Linked DNA regions of Homo sapiens. The main gene of each other region encodes a partner of the protein of the gene in region 2 in a complex. Each region holds a gene or a part of one and is shown on either strand. Other genes may lie near its edges.

Region 1 (7,056 bases), on a different chromosome or scaffold from region 2:
TCACCATGTTGGCCAGGATGGTCTCAATCTCTTGACCTCGTGATCCACTGGCCTCGGCCTCCCAAAGTGCTGGGATTACAGGCGTGAGCCACCGCGCCTGGCCTACACTTAGCTAATTTTTTTTAAGGTTTTTGCAGAGAAGAGGTCATCTTGCCATCTTGCCCAGGTTAGCCTCAAACTCCTAGGATCAAGCGATCCTCCCACCTCGATCCCCCAAAGTGCTGGGATTACAGGTGTGAGCTACCATGCCCAGCCAAAAGAAAATGTTACTAGATATGCTGAAAACCAGGAATTTGGCAGGTAAGGCGTAGAGGGAAAAGCATCCCAGACACAGTCAAGGGCTCAAAGGGGAGAACATGGCCAGGTGCTGTGGCTCACGCCTGTAATCCTAGCACTTTGGGAGGCCGAGGCGGCAGATCACGAGATCAGGAGTTCGAAACCAGCCTGGCCAATATGGTGAAACCCCGTCTCTCCTATAAATACAAAAAGGTAGCCAGGCGTGGTGCGGGGTGCCTGTAATCTCAGCTACTTGGGAGGAGTCTGAGGCAGGAGAATTGCTTGAACCCAGGAGGCAGAGGTTGCAGTGAGCCGAGATTGCGCCATTGCACTCCATCCCCGTCAGCAGTGTGAGATTCCGTCTGAAAAACAAAACAAAAGAAAACAAAAGAGGAGAACATGTCTCCTTTGGCCAGAGTACAGGACCCATGGAGTATTAGTCCATTTTCATACTGCAATAAAGAACACCTGAGACTGGATAATTTATAAAGGAAAGAGGTGTAGTTGACTCACAGTTCAGCATGGCTGGGGAGGCCTCAGGAAAGTTACAATCATGGCGGAAGGCGAAGCGGAAGCAAGGCACCTTCTCCGCAAGGCGGCAGGAAGGAGAAGTGGAGCAAAGGAGGAGGAACCCCTTATAAAACCATCAGATCTCTTGAGATCTCACTCACTATCATGAGAACGGCATGGGGGAACCTGCCCTCATGATTCAGTTACCTCCACCTGGTCTCTCCTTTGACACATGGGGATTATGGGGATTACAATTCAAGACGAGATTTGGGTGGGGACACAAAGCCTAATGGTATCACATGGAGAGGAGATGGAAGCCACAGGATGGGCCAGGGCCAGGGCCAGGCCCAGGAGTCTGGAGAGGGACAGGGACCCCTGAGGGCTTCTAATGGGGTGATCAAGTCATTCCTAGGTTTTGCTGGGGGTTTTTGTTTTGTTTTGAGAAAAGGTCTTGCTCTGTCACCCAGCCTGGAGTGCAGTGGCTCAACCACAGCTTACTGCAGCCTCGAGTTCCTGGCCTCGAGTGATCCTTCCACCTCAGCCTCCCAAAGCTGGGACCACAGGCACGCACCACCATTCCTGACTAATTTTTAAATTTTTTGTAGAGATGGGGTATCACTATATTGTTCAGGATGGTCTTGAACTTCTGGGCTCGAGTGATCCTCCTGCCTCAGCCTTCGAAAGTGCTGGGATTACAGGCATGAATCACTGTGCTGGGCTCAGACTGAGGTTTTTAAAAGGCCACTCTGGCCGGGCGCGATGGCTCACGCCTGTAAACCTAGCACTTTGAGAAGCTGAGGTGGGTGGGTCACTTGAGGTTAGGAATTCAAGACCAGCCTGACCAACATGGAGAAACCCTGTCTCTACTAAAAATACAAAATTAGCTGGGATGGTGGTGCATGCCTGTAATCCCAGCTACTCAGGAGACTGAGGAACCCAGGAGGTGGAGGTTGCAGCGAGTCGAGATCGCGCCATTGCACTCCAGCCTGGGCAACAAGAGTGAAAATCCGTCTCAAAAATAAATAAATAAATAAATAAATAAATAAATAAATAAATAAAAGGCCATTCTGCACTGTGGTGGACAGTTTGGAAGGGGGCCAGAGTGGCTGGGGCAAGGAAGGAGGCTTTTATGGGGGATGGGGGTGGTGAGCTAGAACCAGGGCAGTGGAAAGGACAGGAAGGTATATCACAGGTAAAATCGGTGGCTGAAGGGAAGGGAAGGGTGAGGGAGGGGAGGTGTCGGATCTTGCCCAGCTGTAATACAAGGTGGGCACTGCCCACAGAAGGGGAGCTACTCAGGGATGGGTTGTCTTGGCCCTGGAATATGGTGGACCCTGCGGGGCATTCAAGGGACAGTGTCTTAACAGGGAGCTGAGGCCATCAGAGCTGGAGACAGGGTGGAAGGGGCCCAGGACAGGGACAGCATTGGAAGCTCCAGAGCTAGCAGTCATCAGCCCCCTGGTATCTCGTGGGGTGCACAGAGTGAATGCTGAAGGGCCTGAGTCCTTGCGGGCAGGCAGGGAAAGAGACTAAATGTCGGGGACAGGAGCTAGGAGAAGGCAGCCTTTCAGGCATGGTGCCGTCAACCATGGCTCAGATGCGTCAAGAAGTGGGAGGGGGCCGGGCGCAGTGGCTCACGCCTGTAATCCCAGCACTTTGGGAGGCTGAGGGGGGCGGATCACGAGGTCACGAGATCAAGACCATCCACCATCCTGGCCAACATGGTGAAAAGTCTGTCTCTACTAAAAATAGAAAAATTAACTGGGTGTGGTGGCATGCACCTGTAATCCCAGCTACCCGGGAGGCTGAGGCAGGAGAATAGCTTGAACCCGGGAGGTGGAGATTGTGGAGAGCCGAGATCGCACCACTGCACTCCAGCCTGGCAACAAAGCGAGACTCCGTCTCAATAAAAAAAAAAAAAAAAAGAAAGAAGAAGTGGGAAGAGGCCGGGCGCAGTGGCTCACGCCTGTAATCCCAGCACTTTGGGAGGCTGAGGTAGGCGGATCACTTGAGGTCAGGAGTTTGAGACCAGCCTTGCGAACATGGTGAAATCCCGTCTCCACTAAAAATACAAAAATCAGCCAGGTGTGGTGGTGCGTGCCTGTAATCCCAGCTACTCGGGAGGCTGAGGCAGGAAAATCGCTTGAACCTGGGAGGCAGAGGTTTTGCAGTGAGTCGAGATTGCACCACTGCACTCCAGCCTGGGCGAGAAAGCGAGACTCTGTCTCGAGAGAAAAAAAAAAAAAAGGTGGGAAGAAGGAAAAGTATCCACTGGATTTAGCAAAGTGAGATTGTCAGTGACCTTGAGGAATTTCCACTGGAGAGCTAGAGAGCTGGGGGTAAAAGGCAGATGACTGGGGTTGCGGAATGAGTGGGAGGTGAGGACGTGGAACTAGAAAAATGGTGAGGACCGCTCTTTGAAGAAGATAATTTGGGATTGTTTTATGGTGTTTTTTTAAAGGCTAACCGGCAGGAAGGAGAGGAGGTGAAGGTATAGGAAGGAAGGCTCCATGGGAACTATGGCCTGGTCAAGGGACAAGATGCACCCCCTCTGCGGCCAGAGGAAGGGGTGCAGCCAGGTCTGTAAGAGCAGCAGGAAAAAACCATGCGACAGCCTGTCTCAAGGGTGAGGGCACCGGCGTGGAGCTCACAGAGCTGGAATGAGGGCCTGTGGTTTTGAGGGGGACCCTGGGCTCAGTGGGATGTCCTGAGGGTCAGGCTGGGGCTGGGGTGCCAGATCTAGCAAGTAAAACTACAGGATACCCAATAAAATTTTTTTAGCATAAGTATTTCCCATGCAATGTCCTGGATATACTTACACTAAAAAAAAAATTATTCGTTACTTGTCTGAATTCAAGTCCTGTAATTTTCAGCCAATCCTAGCCCAGCGTGGCGCAGTAGTGGGTCAGGGAGGGCACCGGAACAGCGCGACCCGACAGCCCGGGAAACGGACAGCCGTGTCAGAAGGGCAGGTGCCAGTGGGCAGGAGGCCGGAGAGAAAGCCGCAGCTTCCTTCCACCTCGCGCCGGGCCCGCGGCCGCGCACGGGGACCGCTCCGAGTTCCTCCCGGCGGGAACCCCCCGCCCCAGAACTTTGGTCTCGTCCCACCCACCCCCGCCCGCGCCATGGTCTCGCCCTAGGGAGCCATCGATAACTCTACGCTCGGCCTCGATCGACTCGCTCCGGCTCCCCTCGCCGTCCTGGACACGGCGGAGTGCGGAGCCGCCCGTAAGGTACGGAGGCCGCGAGCCAGGGGCCGGGAACCGGCTGCTGGGTGGCTGGGAGAGCACGGCCAGGGGAAGCCGGCCAGCAGGACGGAGCAAGGGCGGTCACCGGAGGAAAGGGGAGCTCGGGGGTCCAGCCAGACTGCGCCCTTTCCCATCAGGGCCTGCCGCTGGCCTGCTACGCATGCGCAGCCGCAGCGCTCGGCTTTCCCCGGCCCATCCGCCGCCTTGCGCACGCGCAGCCCGCCCCTGCGGCAGAGTGGCGCCCGCGCGTGACTCCCCCCTGCCGGCTGCGGAGGTGGGGGGGGGACGGCGCCCCCGCCGTGTGCGTGGGGCGGGGATGGAGCACGCGCCCTGGAGCCCCGGAGCCAGGTATCACGCGTGTGACGCGTGTCCCTGAACCTACCTGCGCTTCTTGTCCCAACTCTAAAATGGGAATGATAAGCGCCATTCGGCAGCGCCTTGTGGGTCTATAATCTACTTAGCACAGAGAGTGTCTTCTAAGTACTTCACATCCTTCTCTGCAGATGCTCTGACCTTTGACCCCTGCCGTTCAGCTCTAGGGCCCGTGCAGGCCACACCATGAACACCTCCCCAGGCACGGTGGGCAGTGACCCGGTCATCCTGGCCACTGCAGGCTACGACCACACCGTGCGCTTCTGGCAGGCCCACAGCGGCATCTGCACCCGGACGGTGCAGCACCAGGACTCCGTATCCTCCACCCGGGGCGGGCAGGGCGGCGCTGGGGGGATGCCTCGTGTGGGGACCACAGCCTGTGTGAAGGCCAGATGGTGGAGGCCTGGGGGGCCCTGGCCTCAGGGCTACCTTCCCGTCATCCTCCTTAACAGTCCCAGCAGGTGAATGCCTTGGAGGTCACACCGGACCGCAGCATGATTGCTGCTGCAGGTATCTGTGATCCTTGATCTCTAAACTCCTGAGCTCTGGTGGGTCGACCTCAGCACAGCCAAGCTTCAGTTCAGCCTGTGTCCCTAGGTTACCAGCACATCCGCATGTATGATCTCAACTCCAATAACCCTAACCCCATCATCAGCTACGACGGCGTCAACAAGAACATCGCGTCTGTGGGCTTCCACGAAGACGGCCGCTGGATGTACACGGGCGGCGAGGACTGCACAGCCAGGATCTGGGACCTCAGGTGCGGTGGGGAGGGGGCGTGCTGCCCGGGGCTGGGGTGGGCTGCTCTGGGAGACCGTTTTAGGTTGGGTTCTCTTCAAGCAGAGGCTGAGACAGGGAGCTTCCTGTGGGCGACTTACTGAGAGAAGTGAGGACAGGAGGAGAGTGAATTGCATCAGAGCGCGAGTCCTGCCTTGAGCCCGGAGCCAGCTTGTTATTCCCCTTCCACCAGCCACTGGCTTAGGCTCCCTGCTGGAGCAGAGGGCCCTGCGTCCCAAGTATTTCCCAAGAGGCAGGTCCTTCAGCAGAGGGAGGGGAGGAATGGCCAGGCCGAGGCCATCTGGGTAGGGCACCAACAAGCCCAGATGGACAGCATGTGCCCCGGCCCGGCCCGCAGGTCCCGGAACCTGCAGTGCCAGCGGATCTTCCAGGTGAACGCACCCATTAACTGCGTGTGCCTGCACCCCAACCAGGTGAGGGGTGCTCATGGGGCCAGGCACCCTGGGACTTTGGAGGGCTGGGCTTGGGCCCTGCCTCACCACCCCTGCACCCCAGGCAGAGCTCATCGTGGGTGACCAGAGCGGGGCTATCCACATCTGGGACTTGAAAACAGACCACAACGAGCAGCTGATCCCTGAGCCCGAGGTCTCCATCACGTCCGCCCACATCGATCCCGACGCCAGCTACATGGCAGCTGTCAATAGCACCGTGAGTCCTGGTGGCAGGTGCTGGGTGCGGGCAGCTTGGCACTCAGCCCTCAGCCTCTGCAGGTGGGCTTATTCCTGGATGTCCCTTAGCGGCCCCCTCCTGCTTTCCCCATCCCGGGCACTAACACCCACCTTGCCAGCAAAGCCAGAAGCCTTAGTGTCGCTCCCGATGGCTTAGTCCTGTCTGCAGGTCGGTCACTCCGCTTTCTGGAGTCTCTCCCAAGTCGATCCACTTCCCTCTTTTCACTCTGTTGCCTCCTGGTCCCAGTCACCCTTGTTTCTGGTGACGGCTGACACACTCTCTGAGGCTTCCTTTCCCCCTCCCTGACCTCCCCTGGCCCCTGACACGTTCTCTCTTGGATGCTTCTAGTGGTGCCTGGTCAGTATCAGCCAGGTGGCGTCATTCCCCTGAGGAGACCCGGGGCTGCTGGCCTCGCCCGTAGGCTGCTGTGGCGTGGCCCCTGCTCTTCTCTCCAGCCTCATTTTTTTTCATTAACTTCATTTAATCCCAGTGCATCACTTGTACCTCTTGCCCCCGGATTTCCCTTCTGCTGGCCTTTGTCATGCTGTCTCTCTAGCTGGTGCCCTTCTCCTGTCTACTTCCGTTGGCCATCGGCATCCTCCAGGAAGGAGAATTTGAGTCCTTGGCCAGGCGTGGCCTCCTGTTCTTGGCTTGCCAGGTGTGGCCCTTGCTTGGGGCCAGGCTTCCCAGGTGCCTTCTGCAGGCAGGACCAGAGGGGCCTGCCTGCCCCTCACCCGGGGTCCCCATGCACAGTTGGCCCCCAGTGTTGGCCCCCAGGGCATCCTTCCCTGTGTCTCAGACCTGAGGCCTTGGGCCCTCCGTGACGGTCCTCCTGACCTCTAGGGAAACTGCTATGTCTGGAATCTGACGGGGGGCATTGGTGACGAGGTGACCCAGCTCATCCCCAAGACTAAGATCCCTGCCCACACGCGCTACGCCCTGCAGTGTCGCTTCAGCCCCGACTCCACGTGCGTGCAGGGCCTGCTGGCCCGGGAGGGGACCTGCCTGGGCTGGGGGCTGGAGAGGGGAGGGGCTGCTGGATGGAGTGGCTGCTGCTGGACACGCCCCATGCCCACCCACTAGGCTCCTCGCCACCTGCTCGGCTGATCAGACGTGCAAGATCTGGAGGACGTCCAACTTCTCCCTGATGACGGAGCTGAGCATCAAGAGCGGCAACCCCGGG
Region 2 (7,211 bases):
GTCAGGCAGGGGATTCTAAAAAGGTTGAGAGATCTGATTGAGGAACATTTAGAAAGCCTAGATTCATTAAACAATGACTGATGTTTAAAAGAGGCAGTGTAGTAGGGAGGTTAAATTGTGGGCTATCGGCCTAGCCTACTTGGGTTTGAATCCTTGGGTTATATACCTTGAGCAGTTTGGGAGGCTGAGCCTGGAGGACCACCTGAGGTCAGGAATTTGAGACCAGCCTGCCCAACATGGTGAAAACCCATCTCTATGAAAAATACAAAAATTAGCTGGGCGTGGTGGCATGTGTCACCCAGGAGGCTGAGGCAGGAGAATCCCTTGAACCTGGGAGGTAGAGGCTGCAGTGAGCCGAGATCCTGCCACTGCACTGTCTCAAAACAAAAACAAACGAAAACAAAAACAAGGTTATATACCTCAAGAAAGACACTCAAAATGTGTTTCTTCAACTACAATAGGAAGATAATAGTACCTAGTTCATGGGTTGATGTGAGAACTAAATGACTTAATACGTGTCAAAAAGTGTTTAAAACAGTGCAGGGCATATACTAAGTTCTTAATAATTGTTAGCTATTATTATTACTACTACTACTACTATGTACATGGCAAAATGCCAGGTAACAAATGTCAGGAGGTAGGGAAAGAATTAAAAATGACTAAGACTGCCCCTTTCCTCAAGTTCAGTCTAAAAAGAGAGATTATTATTCTACAGCAGCACTATCTAATGGAAATTTAGGCCGGGCACAGTGGCTCACGCCTGTAATCCCGGCACTTTGGGAGCCCAAGGTGGGCAGATCACCTGAGGTCAGGAGTTTGAGACCAGCCTGGGCAATATGGTGAAACCCCGTCTCTACTAAAAATACAAAATTAGCCAGGCGTGGCAGTGCGTGCCTGTAACCCCAGCTACTTGGGAGGTTGAGGCAGGAGAATCACTTGAACCCAGGAGGCAGAGGTTGCAGTGAGCTGAGATTGGGCCATTGCACTACAGCCTGGGCAACAAGAGCAAAACTCCATCTCAATTAAAAAAAAAAAAAAGAGGAAATACAATGATCCACAAATGTAATTTTAAGGCTGCTTGTAGCCATATTTTAAAAGGTAAAAAGAAACAGGTGAAATTAATTACCTAAACCAATATATCCAAAATATCATTTCAACATGTTATCAATATTTAAAAAATTGATATAGTGTCCATTCTTTTTTTTTAGCGAGTCTTCAAAATCTAATGTGCATTTTACACTTACAACAATGTCAATTTGGACTAGTCATTTTTTTTTTTTTTTTTGAGACAGAGTCTCGCTCTGTCACCCAGGCTGGAGTGCAGTGGCATGATCTCGGCTCACTGCAACATCCACCTCCCGGGTTCAAATGATTCTCCTGCCTCAGCTTCCCGAGTAGCTGGGACTACAGATGTGCAGCACCACGCCTGGCTAATTTTTGTGTGTTTTTAGTAGAGATGGGGTTTTATTATGTTGGCCAGGCTGGTCTCAAATTCCTGACCTCAGGTGATCTGCCCGCCTTGGCCTCCCAAAGTGCTGGGATTACAGGTGTGAGCCACCATGCCCGGCCTGGACTAGTCACATTTCAAGTGCTCCACAGCCACATGTGGCTGGTGGTTCTTGTACTGAACAACGCAGTTCTACAGGGGACTAGCTCTTCAAATGTAAGCTAAAAGAAAGTAATTAGTTCCTGGCCGGGTTTGGGAGGCCGAGGCGGGCGGATCACGAGGTCAGGAAATCGAGACCATCCTGGCCAACACGGTGAAATCCCGCCTCTACTAAAAATACAAAAAAAAAAAAAAATTAGCCGTATGGTGGCGGGCGCCTGTAGTCCCAGCTACTCGGGAGGCTGAGGCAGGAGAATGGCGGGAACCCGGGAGGCGGAGCTTGCAGTGAGCAGAGATCGAGCCACTGCACTCCAGCCTGGGCGACAGAGCGAAACTCCGTCTCAAAACAAAACAAAAAACACCAATTAGTTCCTGAGCTCATTCCCTCATTCCTCAATTATGCCCACACTGCCATGGGTGTAACATACACCTATCCCAAGTATGTTCAGCTTATGCTACAAAACCAATTTCTCAAAATTCTTATTTTTGAAAGAATTTGTAAGGCACAGAGGAAAAACCTGGGAATAATTGGTTTTGTAAAGCTTTCAAATACTCCACTGCCAAGAAGAAGACTGCAGAAAGAAATGTCATCCTTTAGGGGAGAAGAAACTTAAGAATCCCTGCTAAGAAAACTACTCCAGTTTGTGTGTATGTGTGTGCGTCCGAAAGGGGGGAAGGTGGCTGGCAAGGGATTTCTATTCTCAGGAAAGAACCAGTGTATCTTTATATGATCTGAGGCCCACAGGCCATCTGCTCCAGACTGAATTCAATTAAACTTAGGATATCTGAAGTCAAATATCCTAATGGTGTTGATAGGGCTTAAGGAAGTTAAGATTGGATGGGGGAAACAGGGATGGGGCTGGGGGAGAGGGAGAGAAGATGTACCCCAACGATGTAACCAAGCTCAGTTTCGGGGACTGGATCTCTGAGAGGTGTCCACAGTGGAGGACAAGGGGCTGACACGGACGCTAGTGTTCCCTGGGGCAGAGATACACAATTTTTATACGTGGCTCAAAAGAAAGGGTGGCTGTGACAGGCAAAAGACCCAAAGGGCAATACCAGAGCTGATGGGCCGGCCTTCGGGCGGACGTACCGCGGGCCGAAGGGTCCAGGGGTCTCTTGGGGGTCCCGGGGAGGTGGGCGTTGCCTCGAGGGGTGGGAGTCAAGGCCTCAGACGGTGCCCAGGTCGTGGGGCCGGCAATGTGGGGACCCCACGTCCCAGACGGGCGGCTTCCCCTGGCCCCCCCACGGGCAGGCTGGCCGTGGGTCTGGACATTACGCCGCCCTAGAGGGGTCGTGCCAGGCCCTAGACTCACCGCGCGGCTTCGGCCAAGGCCTCAGCTGCCGCCGCCAGCACCGGTACCGCCGCTTCAGGCCCCCTGCCCCACCGCCCGCCTTCCCCGCTGTCCTCTAAGCCGGGAGCGAGGGAAGGAGGGTTCCCAGCCCTGAGGACCAATCGACAGGTATAGGGAGAAGATGGACTGAAAAACAGGCCAATAGTAATGAAGAAGAGAAGCTTCAGGACCCGGCTTCTCCAGGGGGCGGGGACTGTTCAAATAGACAAACCACGCGGCCAGTGGCAGGTGAAAACAGGCTTGGGTCCACTCGGGAGAACCAATCGGTCGTGAGTTCACCTCAGTCACTTCCACTCACACATCCGGTACGGCGCTGCTAGGATTCCCTTCTGCATCCGGGCTGTGAACTCAAGGAGTCCGGTGTCTGGGTATCTCCGGATCGCAGCGAGAGCGGCTAGCAGAGGTTCGCGACCCCTCCCGGTGTAATTCTGAGAGGAGAATGTGAGCGATGCCGGTGCCCAGGAATTACTGCATCAAAAGACGTTTCGGGCTAGCGCTCTTTATGGATCCTGTGATATCTCTTTTGTTACAATTAATAAGCATTTGAAAATGTTTTTAATTAGATTCTCTAACTTTCCCAAAATTATCCAACTCAGGATCACTCCAGAGAAACCATAGCCAAGTTTTAACCAAAAGAGCTAGTCATAAATAAAAATTTTCAAAGCAACATTATTTTTTAAAAATCCTTTCAAAAAATCAATAGCTGGCCCGGCGCGGTGGCTCACGCCCATAATTCCAGCACTTTGGGAGACCGAGGCAGGCGGATCACCGTAGGTCAGGAGTCGAGACCAGCCTGGTCAACATGGTGAAATTCCCCCACCCGCACCCCCCGTCTCTACTGAAAATACAAAAATTAGCTGGGCATGGTGGCTCACGCCTGTAATCCCAGATACTCGGGAGGCTGAGGCACGAGTATCGCCTGAACCCGGGAGGTGAAGGTTGCATGCACCGAGATCGTGCCACTGCACTCTAGCCTGGGCAACAGAGCAAGCTCCGTCTCAATACATACATACACACACACACACACACACACACACACACACACACACACAACCAAAGAAAATAAATAACTGCTGGTCACGGTGGCCCACGCACTTTGGGAGGCCAAAGCAGGAGGATCGCTTGAGGCCAGGAGTTCCAGACCAGCCTGGGCAACATAGCGAGACGATGTCTCTACAGATTAAAAAAAAAAAAATCAACAGCAAAAGTGGATTTGACTACATTTTTTTTTAATCACAGTGCTATTTGTCATAGTAAACACTGAAAATTCCTAAATATTTCAAAGTAGGAGTCCAATAAAATATGATGCATTCGTTTGGGCGCGGTGGCTCACACCTGTAATCCCAGCACTTTGGGAGGCCGAGGCGGGCGGATCATGAGGTCAGGAGTTTGAGACCAGCTTGACCAACATAGTGAAACCCCGTCTTTACTAAAAATACAAAAAAAAAAAAAAAAAGGTAGGCGTGGTGGCAGGTGCCTGTAATGCCAGCTACTCAGGAGGCTGAGATAGGAAAATCCCTTGAAGCCAGCAGGCGGAGGTTGCAGTGAGCCGAGATCGCGCCACTGCGCTCCAGCTGGGGTGACAGTGCGAGACTCCATCTCAAAAAAAAAAAAAAAAAAAAAAAAAGATGCATTCATAATAAGAAAAATACATAGCCATTAATAATTATAATTTAGAGCCTAGCATGGTGGCTCATCCCTGGAATCCCAGCACTTTGGGAGGCCGAGGCAGGATTGCTTGAGGCCAGGAGTTCCAGACCAGCCTGAGCAACATAGTGAGACCCTTGTCTCTACAAAAGAAATTTAAAAATTAGCTGTGTGTGGTAGCACATGCCTGTAGTCCCAGCTACTTGGAAGGCTGAGGCACGAGAATCACTTGAGTCTATGACTTCAAGGTTGCAGTCATCTGTGATCTCCACTGCACTGCAGCCTGGGCAGCAGAGAAAGATCCTGTCTCAAATAATAATAATAACAATAAATAGTGGTAATTAGATGAATATTTGCTAAGAAGGAAAAGGTTCACAACTAGTTTAAAAATTACAAGTTGTGCAACAATGTAAGTATAATACAACCATTTACAAAAATATTTATGCATTTCTTATATGTCTCTGTTTACATGGGGGAAATGTGCACAACTAAGATGTAATTTGGGAAAGACACACTTTTTTTCTTTATACATTATCAATTACTTATGTAATAAAAACAAGTGAAGGTAGAAGAAATGAGTTTTCAGAAGGTCTAAACTGCCAAATTAAAGATAGTTGGGCTGGGTGCGGTGGCTCACACCTGTAATCCCAGCACTTTGGGAGGCCAAAGCAGGAAGATTGCATGAGCCCAGGCATTTGAGACCAGCCTGGGCAACATAGTGAGACTCCATCTCAAATAAATAAATAAATAAACAAATAAAGATGTCAATATTCCGTGGCTAACAAAATGCTTTGTTTGGCAGGGTTTTTGTTGTTGTTGTTGTTATTGTTAATATCTATGATATTGGCCAGGCACAGTGACCCAACACTTTGGGAGGCTGAGGCAGGTGGATTGTTTGAGCCCACCTGGGCAACATGGTGAAACCTCATCTCTACAAAAAATGCAAAAAATTAGTTGGTGTGGTGGCATGCACCTGTGGTCCCAGCTACTTAAGAGGTTGAGGTGGGAGGATCACTTGAGCCCAGGAGGTCAAGGCTGCAGTGAGCTGTGATCTCACCACTGCACCACTGCATTCCATCCTGAGTTGACAGAGTGAGACACTGTCTCAAAAAAAAAAAATTATATATATATATATATAAATATATATATATATATAATTGCTCCTTTTTTTTGAGACAGAATCTTACTCTGTCACCCAGGCTGGAGTGCAGGGGAGCCATCTCACCTCACTGCAACCTCTGCCTCCCAGGTTTAAGCGATTCTCTTGCCTCAGCCTCTCGAGTAATAATGGCTACTTTAGATTTAGCCTCTTTTCATTGCTCCTGTGAGATAAGTATTCCTCTAAATTTTACATTTTCACTGATGTTCAATTTTTTTTTTTTTTTTTTTTTTTAGATGGAGTCTCGTTCTGGTACCCAGGCAGGAGTGCAGTGGCGCAATCTCGGCTCACTACAACCACCGCCTCCTGGGTTCAAGTGATTCTCGTGCCTCAGCCTCCTGAGTAGCTGGGATTACAGGCACCTGCCACCACACCCAGCTAATTTTTGTATTTTTAGTAGAGACAGGGTTTCGCCATGTTGGCCAGGCTGGTCTTGAACTCCTGACCTCAGGTGATCCGCCTGCTTCAGCCTCCCAAAGTGCTGGGATTACAGGCGTGAGCCATTGTGCCTGGCCCAACATCTATATTTTTATCATTAAAAGCTTCTAATATGCAATATAGTCGCTATTCAAATCTCAAAATAAACAAGTTACATTTATCATGAAAAGTCTTGCTCCACCCTTGCCCCTTGACTATGTATTTTCTCAGTTTCTTATGCATCCCTAGATTTTCTGTCTGCAAAAACAAGCAAATATATACGTATGTATATTCCTTTTTTTTTTTTTTTTTTTTTTTGAGACAGAGTCTCACTCTGTCGCCCAGGCTGGAGTGCAGTGGCATGATCTTGGCTCACTGCAACCTCTGCCTCCCAGGTTAAAGTGATTCTCCTGCCTCAGCTTCCCCAATAGCTGGGATTACATGTCTGTGCCATCATGCGTGGCTAATTTTTTTATTTTTAGTAGAGACAAGGTTTCACCACATTGGCCAAGCTGGTCTCAAACTCCTGACCTCAGTTGATCCGCTTGCCTCAGCCTCCCAAAATGCTAGGATTACAGGCACGAGCCACCATGCCCAGCCCATACATATATTTTTATTTTCCCCTTTTGTTATACTATACGCACTATTTTGCATTTTTAAAATTTTACTGCATCTTGTAGATCTTTCTCTTGTAGTTCCAACAGGATTCTATGCCTGCTGCACAGCAACAGTTGACCAATGCAATGAGACAGCAGAGTCTGCAGCAGAGAAAGAGTTTAGTGATCGCAGGGCAGCCAACTGAGGAGATGGGAGTGTTACCAGCGCTGAATTTACATGGTCTGCAGCAAGCTCAGTTCTTGCCTCCTCAGAAGAAAGAATTCAACTGAGGGGCATAAGGCAGAGTGAGAGACTGAGGCAAGTTTTAGAACAGGAGCGAAGTTTATTAAAGAGCTTTAGAGCAGGAATGAAAGGAAGTAAAGGACACTTGGAAGAGAACCAAGCAGTTGACCTGAGAGATCAAGTGCGC
Region 3 (6,913 bases), on a different chromosome or scaffold from region 2:
GCCTGTAATCCTTGCACTTTGGGAGGCAGAGGCAGGCAGACCACAAGGTCAAGAGATCGAGACCAACCTGGCCAACATGGTGAAACCCCGTCTCTACTAAAAATAGAAAAATTTGCCGGGTATGGTGGCGGGCACCTGTAGTCCCAGCTATTCGGGAGGCTGGGACAGGAGAATGGCTTGAACCTGGGAGGCGGAGGTTACAGTGAGCTGAGATCGTGCCACTGCACTCTAGCCTGGCGACAGAGCGAGACTTCATCTCAAAAAAAAAAAAAAAATTTGTATGTGTGTTAGCTCTCATGGTCCTACCACTGTACACCCCAGGTCAGGAGACAGGTCAATGTATGCTTTAATGACACTTCCACCAATACAACTCCTGCTTCTTGGAGGCTCATGCCATCCAATTAGTTTCTCCTCTCTCCTCCTCATCTACCTCCCCAGTGCTGTTCCTCAGTTGCAGATGCCATGGGGAGCACGTCTGGTTTCCTTTTCACCCCATGTCTGTCCACCATCTTGGGATGGACGTTCACAAGGATCTCAGTTCCTTGACTATCTCATCTTCAGTGATTTTCCCCCCATTCCACTTTAGCTGGGACCCCCTCTCACATGGCTCCTCCTCTGAGGTTATTTGTTGAAACATCCATCTGTGACAATAACCTCCATCCTTCTGCTTTCCTTCATCAGTGACTTCCATTACATCTATTTGAGACCTTTAGGCCAGTGATACCTGTTTTTCTGGAATTCTCTTGCTTCCCTATCCAGCATACTTTCTATGGCTCATTGTTTTAAGCACTCTTAAAAGCTGATATGACCCCATCACACCTGTCTGGCAAAATCCTTCCTTGGATCAATCCAACTTCTCATTCTTTGGGTGTGTGTATCGTGACTGCTCCAACTAGCTATAGAATAATCACACTAGCCATCATATTAGTATCACCATACATTTAGTCTCCATTCTCAACTGGGCCCTCAATACTGTCCTTGAAATCCTACCATATATCACTGCATGCCAACTTACCACAGTAACTACAGTATTTCAAACCCATAGTCGAACTTGACTACAAGGCTTCTTAAGGGTAGGGTCCCCGTCTGGCTTTTTCACCACTGAATCTCAATAGGCACTCAATAAGTATTGCTTACTGACTGAGGTATACTCATACTGGTAGGCATTAGTAAATAATAGTCACATGCCAGGCTCTGTTATATGTAAGCTACATGTATTAGGTCATTCTATCCTTGCAACAAACTAATGAGGTTATGTAGGACTTCTGTCATTCCCATTTTCCAGGTAAAGATAAGAATATTTAGAGAAGCAACTTGGAGAGATGAAGTCACAAAACTTGTAAGTGGCAGAGTGAGTATTCACTTTTTATTTTTCTAATTTTTTTTTCAAGACAGGGCATTGCTCTTTCATCCAGGCTGGAGTGCAGTGGCATGATCACGTCTCACTGCAGCCTTGACCTCCCAGGGCTCAAGCAATCATCCCATCTCAGCCTCCCAAGCAGCTAGGACTACAGGCATTCACCACCACACCTGGCTAAAAAAAATATATGTGTATATGTGTGTGTATATATATATTTTTTTATTTTTTATTTTTTTGAGACAGACTCTCACTCTGTTGTCCAGGCTGGGCTGCAGTGGTGTGCTCACTGCAACCTTCACCTCCCAGGTTCAAGCGATTCTCCTGCCTCAGCCTCTCAAGTAGCTGGGACTACAGGTGTGTGCCACATGCCTGGCTAATTTTTCGTATTTTTTTTTTTTTTTTTTTAGTAGAGACAGGGTTTCACCATGTTAAGACAGGATGGTCTTGATCTTCTGACCTTGTGATCCGCACCCCTTGGCCTCCCAAAGTGCTGGGATTACAGGCATGAGCCACCGTGCCCGGCCTATATAGAGATAAATTTTTTAAGGTAGTGATGGGGTCTCACCATGTTGCCTAGGCTGGTCTTGAACTCCTGGGCTCAGATGATCTTCCTGCCTTGGTCTCTCAAAGTGCTAGGAAATATTTACTCTTTAGAATCTATAACTGCTTAGCAGTTTTAGATAGGTCGAGTTTTATGTGTCTAGGAGACAGTCAGGCAGCTGTGCTTCAGATTGGAACTCGAGAGAGAGAGAGAGGAAAATGGAGAGTAAGATTTAGGAAGGAACAGATAACCTGGTGACCTCAGAAAATCAAATATCCAAACTTGTTCACACCTGCTGCTTTGTTAGAGTGCCTCTGACAGGTCCCTGATGGAACTGTGGTGGTGTGTGTGCAAGAGTGTGTCTGGGTGCTGAGGTGCACTATTCCCCCAGTATAGATATGTGGTAAGATACCAATTACATAAAGTAATGGGATGTAGTAAGAGATCAATCACATATGGTCATGCGTGGAATGAGGATGTTTTGGTCAATGACAGAGTGCATATGATGGTGGTCCCCTAAGATTATAACATGGTCTTTTAATTGTACCTTTTCTGCATTTAGAGATGTTTAGATACACAAATACCATTGTGTTAGAATTGCCTACAGTATATGGTACAGTAACATGCTGTACAGGTGTGCAGCCTAGAAGCAATAGGCTAATACCAAACAGCCTAGGTGTGTAGTAGGCTCTGACATTGTGTAAGTACAGTCTATGATGTTTACACAACCACAAAATCAGCTAACGATGCATTTCTTGTGTCCTCATCATTAAGTGATGGATGACCATATTTGAAATACATGGGTAGACCCACCGTGTTTTTTGTTTTTTTGTTTTGAGACAGAGTCTCTGTCACCCAGGCTGGAGTGCAGTGGCCTGATCTTGGGTCACTGCAACCTCTGCCTCCCGGGTTCAAGCCATTCTCCTGCCTCAGTCTCCTGAGTAGCTGGGACTACAGGTGCACACCACCACGCCAGACTAATTTTTGTATTTTTAGTAGAGACAGGGTTTCACCATGTTGGCCAGGCTGGTCTCGAACTCCTGATCTCAAGTGATCTGCCCTCCTCGGCCTCCCAAAGTGCTGGGATTACAGGTGTGAGCCACCGTGCCTGGCCCCATGGCATATTTATTAATAAGTTTAAAATTGGGCAGGGGTCCCTCAGGGCTGAAATTCAACCTTGAGTTTTTTCTTTTGCTAAGGTGCGTTTTTGAGAGACTTCCCCAAGCATCTTTCAGGTGGGAGAACCACTCTCACTGCACTCCCTGAATCCTTTTTCCCCCTTCATCGTGGCTTTCTCTACTGATTTCCTCCGTGAGAGAGGAAGGGAGCAGCATGAGACACACTGAACTTCTGCCCTGTGCCAGTCCTCCTACATCTCCTGGAAACCTCCCAGCAGGGCTTGAGGAAGATTATTGTCACCTCCATATTACAGATATTATAATAAGAGAAATAACTAACATTGACTGCATGTTTACTATGTGTCAGGCACTATGCTGGGTGTTTTTCAAGCATCATCCCATTCGATTCCCACAGCAATATACTCTAAAGTTGAAACTATTGCCCTGGATGGGAAAACCCGAGGCTCAGAGAGAAGTGTCACATCCTAGGACACACAGCAAGTTATAAGAGCTGGCATTTGAACCCAGGTCTTTCTCAGAGAGGCTGAGCTGCCTCATCACTCATTTCTGGACGAACTAAGGGCTTTTCTCCGTGGAAATGGGGAGAAAGAAGATTCGATGGAGAAGCCTAACACTGATTCCTGCTCAAGGCAAGTCCAGGCACTGGCGCATCTTGCCAGAACTCAGTCTCCGACCCAGGCCTTTCCCTGCACTGGAGAAGCGGCGCGCATGCGCCCGGCCTCCCTCCCGGCCCCGCCCCGCGGGAAGCTACCGCTCCTTGCTTTCAGCTCTGGGGCTTGCGCACTACGTCCCCAGCCAGAGGCTCCTTCCCGGTCGGGGACTTCCGGAACGCCGGGGTGTGGTTCCGGGTCGTGTGCGGCTCGGGGTAATAGGGCTGCTGCTCGGCCGGCCGGCGGCGGCGAGCAGCAGGGGCATGAGGGCTAACCCGGGAAGCGGCAGCTGAGCGGGCCGGGAGGAGCGCCGGTCCCCGTGGATCCCGAGAGTGCAGAGCTCGGGGCAGGGGCCGGGAGGCGTGGGGGAGCCGGGCCCTCCCCTCAGGAACGTGTCCCGGGGCCGACCCGGCCCGTAGTGTGGAAGCAGCTTCAGGTAAAGGTTGCCCCAGCCGCCAGCTCCCCGCCCGTCCGTCAGCCCACCAGCTTGCCCACCTGGCGGCCCTCTCACCCCTCCAGTTTCAGCGCTGCCCGGCGGGCCGCCTGCCGGGCCCTTGTTCAGGTGGCCCGGGCGCGTTCGTTTCCTGGCCATTTCCAGAACTGGAGGCTGTCAGGAGTCTGAGGCGGGTGTGTGGTTTAGGGGAAAAGAAGCCAGCTGACCTGGTAGTGTGGGGGTGGGGGGTGTAGTTGACTCCGGCAGTTTCTGGGCCTGCACTTGGCAATATCTAGGTGCCCTGGTCTTCATAATGTGAAAATCAAGGTTTTCAAGCATTGACTGTGTGGTCCTTGTTTCCTTGCGTCCCTTCTCCCCCTCCCCCTTAAAGAGGTTAACAGCCTTACAGACTTTTTTCTAGCTACAGTGCTGCTGGAACTTTGATTCATTCTTTGTTTATGGGAGTGGCAAGGAGTCATTTAGATTTGTTTAAGGCTGGGAAAAAGAGATTGTAGCGTAAACAAGATTATGACTTTAACCAGAGACCCCCAAATTGACTCAGAAATTGGTTAAAACTTCCTTTTGAATGAATGAAAGTCACTTTGGAAGCCCACCACAGTACCTGGCACTGTACAAAGCACCATGTTGTTATAAACCCAAATCGGCAAAGTTCAAAACTTTCCCAGGTGTGAAGAGTCAAATGGAGACCCATTGGTTTAAAAAAAGCAGCGTTCTCATTCTCTGACAAGCAGGAGAGGTGGATCCGTAATGTTAAAACCCACTTGAGCAGAAGCCTAGATATGGGTTTTATTCCTTATATTTTATGAGCCCACACAAGGTACCTAGTAAACACGGAAAGAGTTCTTGATGAAGCAATAATTGTTTTCATGTTTTTCAGTTTACACACCTGCGGGATTTGGGGCATGCTGGTAGCCCTTTCCCATTCATCTGTGTGCTCATGCCTACCTTCAACTACTGTGTGTCCCAGACTGCACTTACACCCCCTTACATCTCCTAATCTGGCTCCTGGTTACCTTTCCAGTTATGCTTGAAAAGGTCTCCTTCTTTAATTACCCCATCCTGATCCATTACTCTGAATAAGTAGGATCTCTAATCATTTTTGTTCTTTCCTATTCCATTGATTTTTGTAGAACATTCTCCCTACCTTGCCTAGGTTTCCCCTTTTCTCTTTCAGTCTATTGAGACGCTTCCCACGGCTCAGCTGAGTTGGCCTCACCCAACCAATTCAGGACAACCCCACCTGGAAATGATTTTTCCTCTAGAATTCTATAAGCGCTCATTTTTATCTACAATTATTTAACTTAGCAAATGTTTACTGAATATGGATATGTATATATATGCCAGGTACCATGCTAGGCAATTAGAGATAAATATAAGATTCAGTCTTTGCTGCCAGGGAGCTCAATTTAGTGAAAGAGAGATAAGGGAAATGAATAATTCTAACACCGTGATAAGTACATTGTGTGAGAGTTCTTGTGACAGTGGTAGGTGCGGGAGGGGAATGGGTTATTCACCTTTGAGGGATGGGATGTGGCCAGGTAATGCTTCATAATTTGAGGTAAACTAAACTTTGAGTATTTGGGTATTATATAGGGGTTTCTATTGTTTAATCATTTTAACCTCAATTTACAGATTAGGAAGACCCATAATAAATTACACAGCTGGTAGGAGACAGAGCCAGGATTCAAACCCAGGTCTGTCTGATGCCTAAATCTGTGCTTTTTCCATTACATGTCTTGCCTTTTTCTCACATCATCTCCCTCTTTTTATGCAAGTACATATTGAAACCAAAAGTTATATAGGACAAAACATATGAATGTTAAAATGAATGGTACAGAAATCTTTTAAATGTAAAGACTGTGCTCTTCCAAGGCAAGGAGATGGCAGGTAGGTTAGTTAGCTCAGCTTTGAATATGAGCAGAGAAGACAGTCTATAGAAAATAGGCATGGACTCTGGATTCAATTCCTGGTCCCTGTTCTTACAGGATATGTGACCTTCGACACATAACTCCAAGCATCACTTTCTTCAACTAGGGGTTGGGTTAGGGAATAATATTGACCACATGGAGTGTTGTGAATATTTATTGAACTAATGGGGATAAAGGGCCTGGTACGTGGTAAAGTCCCCCGAAATAAATAGCTATAAGATACAAAGGTATAATGCTTGAGGCATGGTTTTAGACTGGTGAGTGAGTTTACAGCCTGAGTCATGCAAGTCATTGCTTCTTTTAGCAGGGTACAAGGACGTAAAGTTGGAGGGGCGGTAGGGGTCAGAGTCAGTGAGGGCTTGAGTACCAGGCAAGGGAGGTAAATTCCAGTTTCTGCTAATAACTTTTCCAGTTAATAAATACTTCGAGGATCTACGATTCATTTCAGCAGTGCCAAGCAAAATGTTAGACCTTGGGGATACAAAAAGAAGTAAAATTGGGTCCCTATCCTGAGGTTATTGACATTCTAGTAGAGGAGATGTCTGTGTGTGTGCAGGTGAACCATAATAAAGTACTGTGGGTTCTAAGGTAGAAGTCCCCAGGAGGTACCATAGAACACTGAGAAGGAAACACTGATGATGGTAGGTAATGAGTACTTACTCTGCTGGTGTGATGTTAAATGCTTTATCTCATTTTTTTCTCGTGTGAGAAGGTGTTATTAGCATCCTGATTTTACAGATGAGGAAACTGGGGCACAGAGACCTTGAATAACTTCCTTGAGTTTATGCTGCTGGTAGAGCTGTAAGATAGAGGGGATTATCTGCTGAACACTGAGATCGGC

What was found.
Region 1: the proteins of MTOR (region 2) and MLST8 are in contact, whole or in part, in a crystal structure (PDB 4JSV), measured with the Homo sapiens proteins. Residues at the interface, in NP_001373429.1 of Homo sapiens: Leu2269, Arg2270, Met2271, Ala2272, Pro2273, Asp2274, His2277, Leu2278, Thr2279, Leu2280, Met2281, Gln2282, Val2284, Glu2285, Val2286, Glu2288, His2289, Asn2292, Asn2293, Glu2536; in NP_001186102.1 of Homo sapiens: Tyr20, His22, Asp42, Ser43, Gln44, Val45, Asn46, Tyr62, Asn87, Glu105, Gln148, Thr174, Arg221, Tyr222, Leu224, Ser268, Arg270, Gly271, Trp272, Trp274, Ser290, Lys313, Val316.
Region 3: MTOR (region 2) and MAPKAP1 share a complex: the UniProt entries of both Homo sapiens proteins name them as parts of the mechanistic target of rapamycin complex.

The regions. Positions count from the first base shown.
Region 1 is NC_000016.10:2,201,494-2,208,549, forward strand, and holds the start of MLST8 (target of rapamycin complex subunit LST8), read left to right. Parts: upstream 1-3,960; 5' UTR 3,961-4,019; exon of another isoform or gene 4,020-4,194; coding exon of another isoform or gene 4,195-4,382; intron 4,383-4,537; 5' UTR 4,538-4,567; coding exon of another isoform or gene 4,568-4,592; coding exon 4,593-4,721; intron 4,722-4,864; coding exon 4,865-4,916; exon of another isoform or gene 4,917-4,985; coding exon of another isoform or gene 4,986-5,003; coding exon 5,004-5,166; intron 5,167-5,541; coding exon 5,542-5,617; intron 5,618-5,699; coding exon 5,700-5,852; exon of another isoform or gene 5,853-6,531; intron 6,532-6,716; coding exon 6,717-6,841; intron 6,842-6,956; coding exon 6,957-7,056.
Region 2 is NC_000001.11:11,259,523-11,266,733, forward strand, and holds the start of MTOR (serine/threonine-protein kinase mTOR), read right to left. Parts: upstream 3,030-7,211; 5' UTR 2,923-3,029; intron 1-2,922. UniProt on the Homo sapiens protein: Serine/threonine protein kinase which is a central regulator of cellular metabolism, growth and survival in response to hormones, growth factors, nutrients, energy and stress signals.
Region 3 is NC_000009.12:125,704,184-125,711,096, reverse strand, and holds the start of MAPKAP1 (target of rapamycin complex 2 subunit MAPKAP1), read left to right. Parts: upstream 1-3,888; 5' UTR 3,889-4,126; intron 4,127-6,913. UniProt on the Homo sapiens protein: Component of the mechanistic target of rapamycin complex 2 (mTORC2), which transduces signals from growth factors to pathways involved in proliferation, cytoskeletal organization, lipogenesis and anabolic output.